Regions from separate parts of the Homo sapiens genome. Here region 2 is linked to region 1. A link means that fine-mapping ties the variant in region 1 to the expression of a gene that starts in the linked region. Tissue or cell type: sun-exposed skin. Region 1 holds a variant in brackets; the other region holds the start of a gene. All regions are shown on one strand. Distances are between the middles of the regions.

Region 1 (7,348 bases):
AGGCTTTTAGCTTCATTCTGCTGAAGAAAGTAGGTTTAGGACACTGAATATAGATCTAAGTATAGGAACTCAAGCACAAATACTTCTTTTTATTGAGTGCTACCAAAGGTAGTATTTAGCTTTTCAGATCATCCGTTTCTCTCATACTTCTCCATATCCCTCTTGTCTGAGCTTTTTATCCTCTTGTGCAAGGGTCTTATACAAGGCATGTCATTTGATGTGTTTGTTGAATGCGTCAAGCCATCCATCCAACCTTACTTCCATGTTTTATTCATTTTCCTGAGGATAAGGATTTAACTGTGTTGCTTTTGGGTGTCTTCCCACCTGTAATGACCTGCCCTTATTTTCCTTTGATAATCATAATAATTTACACATTGCTTTGAGAAGAAAACTGGTTATCTAAAACAGGAAAGGTTTCATATTATTGCCATCTATGAATCAGTTAACTCCATTTTCCTGAATTGAAGTGAATCTAATGAAGCAAACTTTGAGATTCAGAAGGAACTATTAGTTCCTTCTGTTTTATAAATCTCATTTTAATATTCAGCAAGTTAGTAAAATTCAAGTCTCTGGGCTTAAATCTGCCACTTACTGCCAGAGTGATGTTGGCAGTTTATTTAACTCCTCTGAGATTCTGGCTTATGAAAAACACTCAACAAATATTAACTCCGTTGTATTTATTTCTGGTCTCCTGCTAACCTCCTACTTCCCCCCACCCCCCCCCAAAATATCGCCCGAACCCTAGTGAAACATAGCTAAATTGAGTGTCAAGACAGCCTCCTGATAGGGAGAAGGTCGAAAAACAGGAGCCCATGAGACACGAGGAAGAGAAAATAGACCACTCTTGATTTCATCAAATCTTAGACTTCTCTAAGTCTTGTTGCCTCTCAGCGCATGAATCCCTTCCACAACAGCTCTGCCTGGTAGTCATTTGGCTTTGGCTTTAAATCAGAGATCTTACTATTTTCATTACTTTTGTTTGTTTGTTTTATTTTGTTTTGTTTTTTGAGACAGAGTCTTGCTCTGTCACCCAGGCTGGAGTGCAGTGGCGCAGTCATGGCTCACTGCATCCTCAACCTCCTGGGCTCAGGTGATCCTCCCACCTTAGCCTCCTGAGTAGCTGGGACTGCAGACACACACCACCATGCTCAGCTAATTTTTGTGTTTTTTGTAGAGATAGGGTTTTACCATGTTGCCCAAACTCTTGAACTCCTGGACTCAAGCAATTTGCCCACTTCAGTCTCCCAACGTGCTGGGATTACAGGTGTGAGCCACCACACTCAGCCTACTTTTCATTATTGAAGATAGTTAGGGCAGGGTAAAAGTTTTCATGTTTTCTACCAGCTTCATAGTTTCTTTTGCAAATTGCTGTATTGGGGTTTGTAGACCTTTCAAAGGAGAAAGGACCACAGCACCCTCAGTGAGTATTTCCTCCAAGCTTGGTCTTGGTTCCTGCTTGACTAGCCTTATTCTTCTCCATCTTCTTTTAGGTGTGTATCCTCTGTTTGGACGAAATGCTTCCAACCTCTCAGGAGCTGCCTTGCGAGTTCATGTGGTTCTTTCCTCTCTTTCCTCACACCTTGAGCCCACTCATGAGCTGGACTCCATGGACTGCAGCAGCCACAGTGAGTCTGAGCAGCTCCCCAGAAGGAATGATGAGGTCCAGCTCTCTCCACCAGAAGTCATCTCCTGCCACCAGAAGTCTCCTGCCTCCACCCAGGTCCCCTGCAGCAGCACCACAGCTGAAGTCCGCCTGACGCAGGAGGGCCCTGCTGATTTGGATGGAACGTTTGCAGTCAGCATCCTAGTAGAAAGAGCAATGCACTTGAGCTTGAAAGGTATGCTCTCCTCACCTACCCAGGAGCATGTCTAACTCTTCAGGGTGTGCTCCTTTCTTCACAAATCTTTCAAATCATGGCAGGATCTGTTAATTATCTCAACTGATAAATATTTATTTCTCAAGCCTAAAGGTTTAAGCAACATGAAAGCTTTTCTGAACTTGTTGCATATCGTAAATTCCCCAGTCCAGCCACCTGAGTCTCAACCTAGATAGATACTTCTCTTTTCCTTATCCACTGTCAAATCATCGGATCCCTAACTTGTTCTTTATTAAATTTCTCAGATTTCTTCCTTCTGCATTCCTGCCAACTCAGGCCTTCCTAATGCACCTAGGGCCAGGTGTTTTTAACATTGGGTCCTTAAACATCCAAGGGATCCGTGAAAAGTTCAAACTCCGGGTTAGTGGCCTTGGATAGGAAAATAATTACATCTTTATTTTTAGCAACCTCTAGCTAAAATTTAACATATTTCCTCTCATTATGAATATAGGCAGTAGATCCTAGTAATAGTACCTGTGATATTGTCAACAATAGAAATCACAGGTATTTCCATATCACATCATTATTGCAGATATCTTAGAATATCACTTATAACTATGATTTCTTTGAAATTACAATAGTTAGGGGGGTTTTTTTGTTTGTTTTGATTTTTTTTTTTTTTTTTTTGAAACAAAGTCTTGCTCTGTCGCCCAGGCTGCAGTGCAGTGGCACGATTTCGGCTCACTGCAACCTCCACCTCCCAGCTTCAAGCAATTCTCCTGCCTCAGCCTCCTGAGTAGCTGGGATTACAGGCTTGTGCCACCACTCCTGGCTAATTTTTGTATTTTTAGTAGAGATGTGTTTTCACCATGTTGGACAGGCTGATCTCGAACTCCTGACCGCAAGTGATCCACCCACCTCAGCCTCTCAAAGTGCTGGGAGTACAGACGTGAGCCACTGTGCCAGACCTACAGTAGTTATTACCTATAGTTAGACCTTGTTACTAAAGCACATATATTACTATATCACAAAGTTCTTTTAGTTTTGATAACTCTATGTAAATATAATTGGATTTCTCTGTAATCCTATGTGTTTTACATTATGCATTTTAAAGAAACACTGTTAAAAGAAGAGGCCCATAGACCTTGCCAGATTGCCAGAGTCCATGGCACAAAGAATTCCTGCCCTACCTTTATTCAGCATTGTAATCTCCTAAAATTTCCCCTTTGCCGTCACCCTTCTCTTTTGCCTGGCTACTTCCAGCTCCTCTCTTCAGACCCAGCTCAGGCATCACCATTTCCTGGAGGGCTTTCCCAATATAAAGGCCCCCTTCTATTTGCTCCCCTGGCACTTTGCCCCTGTATCATATCATATGTCACACAGTACTGCAGTTGTTTCCATGGTTTTCTTTTCAACTAGATATGAACTGTTCAAAAGCAAAGACCTCATCTCATTTGTTCATTCATCATGCATTCATTTATTTTACAACAAAACTTACTGTATTTGCTACATGCTAAGCCCTGTCCTTGGTGCCAGGGATAAAACAGTAAAAAAAAAGGACAGACAAAAATTGTGCCCTGTGGAGATTACATTCTAGTAGGAATATATTTATCCCTGTGTCCCTAGCCAATAAATTGTATGTGTACATATGTGTGACTTTGAGCAAGGTATTCTTTCTCTCTGTCTTGAATTTCTCATCTGTAAATGGCTGTGATTAACAATGTTCAGATGTGTGGTGTCTATGAGAGCCAGTCAACCATGGCCTTATGAATCCAGAAAGTTTCAATATACATCATTTGATTCAGATTTGACCTCTCTGTTTGGCTCCTGTCATCTCTGT[T/A]TTGGTGTCTCTCAAACTGTGTCATGTGTCCTTACTACTTTAGAACAGAAACAAAACCTGTGCTCATAGTAACTATTATTTATCTCTCATTCCTACTCCTCCCCGTTTATACTACCAACAGCCATTACTCCTGGGATTATAAGCTTCCATAATGATCCTTGATGTTCTCATCCATTTCAGCCATTGTGTATCAGAAACCTTGAAACATTCTATATCAGGACAAAGTCTTCTTCAAGTGCAGTGTGAATCACAAAATTGAACAATTTTTACTTGTTTTTAAAGAAAAAAAAATTTTCTGCCCCACCAAAGCAGCCATTTTTGACAAATTTTTTTTAAAGACCAAAAAAATCAATAGATGAATGAGTTTAAGGAAAGTATTAAAAAGCTTCTTTTATTTTTGGAAAGTTTTTTTTTGTAGTTGCATTGAAAATAAAATTTAATATACAAAAGATATGGTATATGTTACATTTTAGGAGAATTCCCATATTGTTAAAAAAAAGCAAAATATACTTACAAATTTTCAATGAGACAGTGAATTACAGTTTTATAATATCACTTGGCAAAATTTTATAATAATTTATTGAGCATCATCTGCTGTGTGCTGAGTTCTATTCTAGTCTTTGTACATTAATTATGGGTTAGGTATCCCAAATCCAAAAGCACCAACTTGGTGCTCAAAGGAAATGCTCATAGGAATATATCAGGTTTCAGATTTTCAGATTTGGCATACTGAATAAGTATAATGCAGATATTACAAAATCTGAAATACCTCTTGCCCCAAGCATTTCAGATCAGGGTTATTCCCTGTATCCCCTTTAATCCTTGCCACGAGCAGGATTATAGTTTGAAGAGATTACAATACATAATCATTTCACAAATGAGGAGACCGAAGTTCAAAAAGGTAAAATGACCTGAAGTTACATAGTTAATGCGCTCTGCAGAACCAGATGGGCAGGTCTATACTCAAAGAGACAATGGGCAGATCTCTATACTATAGGTCTACACTCTATGCTCAGCACAGTGCCTGACTGACACATAAATGTCTGTGGGAGGAAGGACTGCATGGGCTTATCACTGCAGGGTGGAAATCAGGATACAACAGTGACGTCTGGAAAGTCAGATGTCTACCCTATGCTTGCCTTGACCTGGCTAAACAGAAAGAGGCTAAATAACAAGTGATTTACAGGTCTGCAACTCTTGCCAGAAATGTGAGAGGCGTTATGTCTCATATTCATAAAACAGGAGGACATTATGTTTGCTTTGCTGCATCATGAAGATCACAGTGCTGGGATAAACAAACAACACACAGTCCCTGTCCCCAAGGAACAGCCTAATGGAGAGACATGTTAACATTTTTAGTACAGAGGAATAAACGATATGAAAGAGGAAAGCTGTGGGGAGGTGGATGTGGTAGTATAGGAAAACTTTGAGAACACAGAGGGCATTTTTTTGCTAATGGGGTGGTCAGGGCAGGCTTCCAAGTATTGGTGTCACTTTAGCCTACTCTTGAAGGAGGAGGAGCAAGTTTGCTGAATGAAAGAGGAAAAAGGCATTCTAATGAGAAGAAACAGCATGCTCAAAAGCTTGGTAGTATGAGAGAATGGGACATTGGCCAAAAAAAGGTCATTAAATGTGAGTAAAAAGTAGTGAGAAATGGGGCTGGAAAGACTAATTAGGCTACATAGGCAGCATTTTGTATGCTACATGACTGACACTGCAGGTGAGATGAAACCAACAAAATCTTAATCTGTGGAGAGGCAAGGTCATATTTGTTGACCAGACATGAAATCTTGGTGGCAGTATGAAAAAGATACTGGAGAATACCGAAAGCAGCAATCACTGAGAGGGCCGTCACATTAGTTCAAGTTCTGAAGCCTAAACAAGCAAGGTGGCAGCAAGAATGGAGAACAGGCGACAGAAACTTTCTGGTAGGAGACCATGATTCTACACTCTGTACTTCTGACTTTCCTCTTGCCTTAATAGTGTTCTCAGAGTGTCTGTCCTTTTTATGCCTTGGAAGCTCTTTCTTAAGGAAGGAAATGAGTGGTTCCTTCATGCAAACCTTTATGCAGAGGATTCACAAACAGCCCCAAATTAGGAGCTTTGCCTTCAGCAAAGCTGAGTTCTGAAGCAGCTCTGAAATGGTCTGTGGTCACCACTGTAGTCCTGGTTCTGAAAATAAAAGAACTTCTTGGATACTTATGTTAGAAAAAGCTCTGAGGAACCTTCGGTTAAGATCAGCTTCAATACTCTTAAGGTTTGTATACTTATATTAGACAAAACAGGTATTTCTAGCCCTGTTTTACAAATGAGACAAATAAGGAACAGAGAGGTAAAATGATTTGAAGTAGCATAAGTTATACTCAGTAAAAAGTAAAATCAGCTTCAATATTATCAACTTTTAGAGGCATTCTTTAGCCCATCAAGGCAGAGTTCAGGACACCTCTGGGTTCCCATGTGCTTTTAGCATAGTCTTTATCTTATTGGGTTGTAATTATCTGTCTGTGTTTGTCTCCCGCAGATCAAGAATCAAATCTGACTCACCTTGTACAGGTGTGACACAGAGGAGGTGTCAGCTAATGTTAGCTTAATACACCTGCTGGGCTAAGTTTTTATTAACATAAAAAATTGGACATTGCTTAAGGGGGAAGTTTCCATCCATTCACTCCAGGCCAAAGGGAGAGCACTTCTCTTAACCAGATGGAGATAATTAGAATGATTGCAATGGAAAAAAATCTAAAGTACGAGTCAGGAAACCGTGGTTCTTCTCAATGCTAGTTAACCAGGTATGTGATGAGCAAGCCACTTCTCTGTTCCTTGGTTGCCTTATTTTTATAATAGGGATAGAGATGCCTATCTTATGCGATTTTCAGAGACGTTATCAGCACAACTTTAGTGTGTAAGAAAACAGTGTGCAAGCTGTAACGCATTATCTAAATATGAGAAGTTGTTATTTTAATCTCACTGAAACAATTACACCTTTCTTGATGCATAAAATTCTTAAATGGCATAACTGGTTCACCTCAGGTCTTCTTAATGTGTGTCCCAACCCTGTGGGGGGTATAGCAGCCTTCTTTTGGGCTGCTTCCAAAAGTATTTCAGAACTTGACCTTTTTCAGAATGTAAACAGGCCCAGATGAATTTCCACCTACAAGAGGAGAGCCAGAGAAACCTGATAGACCTGCTCTCCCAAGCTGATTTCTTTTTCACCCACCTGTTTGGCTAAAAGGAATGTGTCTGTTCAAGACTAAATAAGGAACTATCTTCTTCCAAAGTCAAAATAGTTTTGTTTCAAGGCCTTTAGCAAATAGCAGCTTTAAAAATAAACTGGAGGATGGCCGGACGCAGTGGCTTATGCCTGTAATCCCAGCACTTTGGGAGGCTGAGGCAGACAGATCACTTGAGGTCAGGAGTTCAAAACCAGCCTGGCCAACATGGTGAAACCCTTTCTCTACTAAAAATACAAAAATTAGCTGAGCGCAAGCCTGCAATTCCAGCTACTCAGGAGGCTGAGGCAGGAGAATCACTTGAACCCAGGAGGTGGAGGTTGCAGTGAGCCGAGATCGTGCCTCTGCACTCCAGCCTGGGCGACAGAGTGAGTGAGACTCCGTCTCAAAAAATAAATAAATAAATAAATAAACCAGAGGGATGGGGGTAGTGCCATGAGAGATGTGAGCAAGGTTGATATATA
Region 2 (6,939 bases), 240 kb before region 1:
ATGTGGACTCGAGGTATTAGTATTTTGTCAATGTTAGTTTCCTAATATTGGTGGTTATATTGTGGTTTTGTAGAAGGTCTCTAAGAATCTTATGGGTGTACCTTATATTTCAACCAGGAAAAAAAAATGCTTCTAAGAATCTTAGGGCTGGCTGGGCATGGTGGCTCACACCTGTAATCCCAGCACTTTGGGAGGTCAAGGTAGGTGGATCACTTGAGGCCAGGAGTTCGACACCAGCCTGGGCAACATGGTGAAACCGTCTCTAAAAAAATACAAAAATGAGCTGGGCATGGTGGCATGTGCCTGTAGTCCCATCTACTCAGGAGGCTGAAGCAGGAGGATCATTTGAGCCCAGGAGTTCAAGGCTATAGAGAGTCGTGATCGTGCCACTGCACTCCAGCCTTGCAACAGAGCAAGACCCTATCTCTAAAAAAATAAAAAGACTTTTAAGACTGTTGTACCACAACCCTGAGTCTCAGCCCAAGTTAGAGAAGGGCACTTCTTGGGAAGAAATATAGATATGGTTTTTGTCTAACGGAAAGAACTCCAATAAGATTTACAGGAAATCCTCAAAGGTTTTAAGATGATTTTATCAATAGAAGTACTGCCCACTTGGGCTAAAGAGACAGAGACAATACAAAGCAGATACCTTTGGGTTCCTTTATCAGTTTCCTACTGTTGCTGAAACAAATGACCACAAACACAGTGGCTTAAAACAACACATATATTGTCTTACAGCCCTGGAGTTCCGAAGTCTGAAATGGGTTTCACTGGACTAAAATCAACGTGTCAGCAGGTCTCTGTTCCTTTTGGAAGCACTAGAGGAGAACCTGTTTCCTTGCCTTTCCAGCTTCTAGAAGCGGTTCACAATCCTTGACTGGTGGCCTCTTCTTTCATCTTTAAAGTCAGCAATATAGTACTAAGTATCTTTAAATCTTTCTGACTTTGCTTCCATTGTCACATTTCCTTCTATGACTTTTAAGGACCCTCATGATTGCATCGGGACTACCAAGATAAACCAGCATAATCCTCCAATGTCAAGATCCTTAACTTAATCACATCTGTAAAGTCTCTTGTGCCATGTAAGGTAACACAGTCATGGGTTTTGGGAATCAAGACATGCACATCTTTGGAGGGAGGGCATGATTCTGCCTACCACAGTCCCTAATCTTCTATGGTCAGAATACCTTCTATGGGAAGGCTACTCAGTTAGAAAGGGTTTGTGCAAGCTAGGAGCCTTGAAGCTTAAGCTTCAAAACCTTCTAGGTAAATCTGCCTCTGGTATTGATTAAGAATATGGAATCAGGATCCACATGACCTGGGTTCAAGTCCCTTCTCTACCACTTACTATGTATGTTGATTGAATTGATGTTACAGATTGGGTTTTCTAGAAGCAGAGGCACAGCTGGAGTTTGAGGTGCAAGATGTTTATTAGAGATCAGCATCTACGAAAGGGAAAGGAAGCAGGAAAAGGCAGAGGAAGAAGTCAAAGAGGCTTGACAAAGCCTTGATCAAGGTGGCAGGTGCGCTGGAGCTAGTATTTCCTGTAAGAATTGTCTCACGATGGGCCAAAATGGCTAGGCCTTGATTCCCTCACCTTGCTCCATTGCTGGATTAGGGCTGTTCCAGGAAGGACATTTCCCTAAGCGAGACTGCTCTCTGCTATAGGACAGACCCTAAAGCAGCTGACCACTGGATACTCTTCTCATCACATACCCTGCAGCTGTGCAACAAGTCCTTCTTCGAAGGGGGATCTGCATGTTACATCTCATGTCTACACAAGCAGTGGTGTGCTGGAGCTGGCTCACCCCAGCTCACAGGAGTTGTTGGCATCTTTATCCAACCACAGTCAGTGGTGACATTTTTGCATGTCGAAATTAGCCACTGTGGGAGAATTGACACCACAGAAATTGGCAAATGCCACAAACCAGAACTTTATTTTTTTCCTGGAGAGCTGGTTTACCAGCACACCTCGAATGTGGTCCACAAGTGATTAACACTGAGTAGGTTAATGATTGTCCCTACAATTCAGTCTTCTCATCGGTAAAGTGGGGCCAATAATACTGTAAGAATACTAATATTACTTAGGCTATAGGGTCAGCATGAGAATTAAATGAGTTAATACATGTAAAATACTCTGGACAGCGATTAAATGAGTTAATATATGTAAAATACTCTGGATGGCGACTGCCACACAGGAAACACCCGGTAAGTATTAACTACTATGTTTACTGTTGCCATTGTTATTACAATTATTGCTACCTTAAAAACTTCCACTGGATTTTCATAGAGGACAAGCACCTAAATTTCTTAGTATGACATGCAAAGACCTTTCACAATCTGATAGTTTCAAGCACAAGAAACTTTTCATCATTTCTGGAACTCAAACTGTTTTCCACCTCCAAACCTTGTCACGCCCATGTACCTTCTGCCAGGAAAGCCCACTCCTCCCTTGCCTGTCAACTTCCAATTTTTTTCATCCTTTTGAACCAGCACCCATCACCTCCTCTCTGATGCCCTCTCCACCCACTACATGAGGGTTCCTTCTTCAGTGTTGCCATTGCATATTGCACAACCCTCAGTTACTCTGACAGCACTTTATTGTGATTACTTGTTTACATAACTGTCTCCTCCTTTGAGTCCAGGATTGGATCTGCTATTTCTCTGTGTAGGCAGCACAGTAACACAGGTACTAATAAATATTTGTTGCATGAATGAACATTGCCTGGGAAATGCATAAGAGGGGGGAAATAGAGTACATAGCCTAGTAGGCTATAATAATAATAATAATATTTTTATTTGCTTAAGTGACTCTAAGTATATTGTGTAAAGCAGTGACTTTAGGACCCCAGAGCTTCAGGTTCTGTAAGTCCTAGATTTGTCATATACTCACATCCTGACACAGTCCTACTTATCCTTCAGATGGCTCAGATGTCACGCTCTCTGTGAGGGTTTTCCTCCCAGCTGTCCTCTTGCCGCTCTTTGCCTGCGCACCTATTCACATACGCATAATTGACTCTTCTGGACGTCCCTGTGGGGATCCAGTGGTGTTTGTGTATTCCCACTCCATGGTACAGAGGGGCGGATATTTTGGGGATCCTGTGAGCGTGGTGTTAACAATATTTGGGGATAGTCACAGCCTTAGACCTGTGAATTCATCGCTCACCCTGCCTCCGCCTCAATTTCCCCTAGTGTGATGGGCACAGTGGAAACACCTTCCCAGGGTCGCGATTTAGTGGAGGGCGGCGGAGACTGATGTTGCAGGAAGCCCCCACGCATTCCGAGGAGCTGAGGAATAGAGAGCGAGGTGAGGCGTCGAAACAAGGAAGGAGTCAGGGGGCGTGGAGCGAGACTGGGCGGTGGACGGGACGGGCCGGGCCGGGGCCAGAGGGCGGGGCCTGAGCCGGGAGGGGGCGGAGACAGGGGCGGGGCAGGCGAGGGCGGGAGCGGCTGCCGCCGCGCGGCCAGGACTGTCTGAGGGGAAGTTCGCGAGCGCTGGCTATGGGTCCTGGGGCGCGGCTGGCGGCGCTGCTGGCGGTGCTGGCGCTCGGGACAGGAGACCCAGAAAGGGCTGCGGCTCGGGGCGACACGTTCTCGGCGCTGACCAGCGTGGCGCGCGCCCTGGCGCCCGAGCGCCGGCTGCTGGGGCTGCTGAGGCGGTACCTGCGCGGGGAGGAGGCGCGGCTGCGGGACCTGACTAGGTGAGGGCACGACGAGTGGGAGCGACCGAGGGGCCTCAGTGGGATACACTGTGCCGCAGGGTGGGGTGACTCAGGTTGAGTGTGACCCCAGGCTCATTGTCATGCTGCGTGGGACCCCAGACCCACTGTCGCACCGTGCGACTGAGACATTGTGGCATGGGGTGGGGAGTGGCTCTGAGGGCCAGTGTGACCCCCTAGACCCATTGTCACCCTGTGTGGGACCCTGACACTCCGTGGCATGAGGTGTTGGCGAGGGTTGGGTCACACTGGGACTGCAGACTCCATCACACACATAGTGGCACCCCCCATATCCAGCGTCACACAGCAAAGTTGATACACTGTGGAAGAGCGGGGCGGGGTGACTCTAGGACCTCACAATGTGCTGTGCAAAGCTGTGTGAGCCCCAGGCCCTGTGTCACACTGACACAGACACAGTGGACGGTGCTGTGACAGAGACACTGTGAGAGTGACATGGAGAGAATACGGTGACGCTTTAGCTACGCAAGTATTGACCTTTCAAGGGGGGATCGTGAAACACCGCATGACCTAGTGAGCTGATGTTTAGTGTTAGGAGTCAGGTGACAGTCTTCCACCATATGTGAGGTTTACATGTCATTGGGACTGGATGGGCACGACACTGTGGATATCATACTCTGCATGTGAATGATGCTGAGTAACTGTACAGGTCGCTATATGAATAATGCTTCAGTTCATTAATTCATACAACACATATTTTTGAGTGCCTACTAAGAGCCAGGCAGTGTTCCAGGCAGTGGGGATAAAATGGTGATCAAGAGCCAACTCTGCCCTCGAGGAGTTTGGGTCTGTAGCACCATGACTGTTAATCAGAGATGTCCACTGCCGTCTACGTCTTCAGTTCTTCCTTCTCTTTACACATGTAGAAGCTCTCTAAATACTAAATAAATGATAACTGAGATGTTATATGTGTGTCAACATATTTGATATCAAAAAAGCACTGTGAAAAAACATACTTGATGCAGAAGATACTGAGTGTAGCACACAGCAGTGGATGCTCAGCTAATATAGTTTTGGGGTACAGTCAACAAACTCTAGTGCTACACACTGTGGCATAAAAGGTTGTCAGACTTGGGATGCTGAGGCACCATAGTCATGTATCGACTTAGCAGTGTCCAACTGACAAAAATGAAAGATAAATGATTGTATATGATACCATCTGTATGAATATGTGCTGCGCCTTCTCTGCCTGGGACATCAAGAAGCCTACAACACTGACAGAGTGGTTATGACCACGTCACTATTTGGATATATTAATATTGTACTTATATCATGTGACCTTATCATTGAGCAAAGACAGCACAATGCACTGCTTTTAAAACTTTGCGTGAGTGTGTGTGGTAATAATACTGATTCTGGGGTGACATGAGAAGAAGGTATGTGGAATGGGGAGTGACTCTGAGGTCCAGTGTGACCCCCAAACCCATTGTCACCCTGTGCGAAACTTTGTGACCCCATGACTGTGAGAGAGAGCTATGTAGAAGAGAAGCATTTTGTGGGTGGAAAGTATTTGCGAGAGATCTTGTTAATAGTGACTGAATGAGCTAATGTGGTGCTTGTCCTTAAGTATGTGGCTTGCGTATAAACAGCTTGAAATAGTGTGACAATATACAATATAGGTATGTATTAATTTTAACAATAAATGAAGATCATTTCAATAATTATTGTCACTCTTTGGAATAGCATAGTTGTCTAGTATTCTATGGGTCCATGTTGACCGAGCCAAATGTTTTCTTTTTGTTCATAGCCCAGAGTCATTGGAGTCCAAGCTTATTAGTGGAAATAGGACAGAATTTTTTCTCTTTGATTTCAGAGCCCAGCATTCTCCCTGCTACCCATGCTTGTTCTCATACCAGTAATCTCTTTGGGTAGCTCAGATGGAGACGGGAGTGGGGGGTCAAAATCCCCCTGCTGGTCTTTCAGGTTACATTCTCAGAAGAGAGCACTTGAAGCATTTTGGCCAAAGCAGCTGGCCAACCCCATTCCACCATGCTGGTCTCCTTCACTGTCTTTCCACCACTGTCATTATCACAACTTTGTCACAGCAGGAGGTCTCATACAAACCATATCTCATCTGATTCTCTCTCACACACAATGCTTTGAAATAGATTTGTATTACACTTGTTAACTATTGAGAAATCAGTTAAAACATGAGAAAACTAAAGTCTAGTTGCTCACTCAAGATTGTATTAATAAATCTAATAGGTAGCAAATCCAGGACTAGGACACAGTTGTTTTGATTGTTTATCCAACTTTTTTCCTACTATGCTATGTTATCCCTACCACTTCTTTTATCTGTTATACCAAGACATAGACCAAGCCCCTAACTAATTGAGGTTTTACTAGTGGCCACAGTACATGGTGGTTAACAGTGAATTCAGGAGTTTAACAGACCTCTATTTGAATCGTTGGCTCTGATCTTGGACAAGTTACTTTACCTCTTTGAGCTTTAGTTTCCTAATCTGTAAAATGATGATAAAAATAGTACCTACCACCATAGGGTTTTTGGAAGGATTAAGAGTACCATGTAAAAGTTTTTATCATTGTACCTGGCATGTAACAATTGATGGACAAATGCTAAGCCTTTATGCTTATTATTTTATTTTATTTTATTTTAAGACCATCTAGTGAAACTAGGCCCCACTTTTGGCTCTAAGTATTAACTAGGATTGTGACAGCCTAGATAAAAAAACAAATCAGAAAAGTTCTCAATTATTTTCTCAGGTGACTTATGAACAGTTAATTTTGTAGTTTAGTTTGATATTTTGAAGACTGTCATTCTGTCATTCTGTTCTCTAGTGACTGCTCTAAAACCCAGTGAAATGTTTGCTTTTTAAGAGACAGGGTCTTGCTCTGTCACCCAGGCTAGAGTGCAGTGGCTCTATCATAGCTCACTATAACCTCAAACCCCTGGCTCAAGTGATCCTTCTGCCTAAGCCTACCAAGTAACTAGGACTACGGGTGCACACCACCATGCCTGGCTAGGGTTTTTTTGTTTTTGTTTTTGTTTGGTTTGGTTTGATTTGGTAGAGACGGGGTCTTGCTCTCTTGCCCAGACTGGTCTTGAACTCCTGACCTGAAGTGATCCTCCCTCCTCGGGCTCCCAAAGTGTTGGGATTGCAAGCATGAGCTACCGTGCCCAGCCTTTATGTTTGCCTTTTAAAACAAGAATTTTGGCAGTTCTTGCTAATTTTTCTATACT

Direction of the effects. Positions count from the first base shown, and alleles are read on the strand shown. Sizes are in standard deviations (SD) of each study's normalised expression.
For the expression in sun-exposed skin of the gene that starts at base 3,473 in region 2, allele T in region 1 goes with a higher level than allele A (small effect, 0.32 SD a copy in GTEx).

What was found. PIP is the estimated chance that this variant, and not a neighbour inherited with it, causes the effect.
Region 2: it holds the start of P4HA3, and the variant in region 1 is the best candidate, but not a certain one, in a credible set for the expression of P4HA3 in sun-exposed skin (GTEx, PIP 0.66).

Annotation. Positions count from the first base shown.
Region 1 is chr11:74,068,743-74,076,090 of GRCh38, reverse strand. C2CD3 (C2 domain containing 3 centriole elongation regulator) reads left to right here. Exons shown (of 33, transcript NM_001286577.2): 24 at 1,491-1,838. Among named protein-coding and RNA genes, the nearest start is that of UCP3, 63 kb to the right of the region's middle. RefSeq lists an enhancer at 3,451-3,520. The variant T/A (reference allele first, on the strand shown) is at 3,658.
Region 2 is chr11:74,308,174-74,315,112 of GRCh38, reverse strand. It overlaps P4HA3 (prolyl 4-hydroxylase subunit alpha 3), which reads left to right and starts at 3,473. Exons shown (of 13, transcript NM_182904.5): 1 at 3,473-3,701. The coding sequence starts at 3,502. P4HA3-AS1 (P4HA3 antisense RNA 1) reads right to left here and starts at 3,751. Exons shown (of 7, transcript NR_120556.1): 1 at 3,664-3,751; 2 at 3,167-3,288; 3 at 2,894-2,994.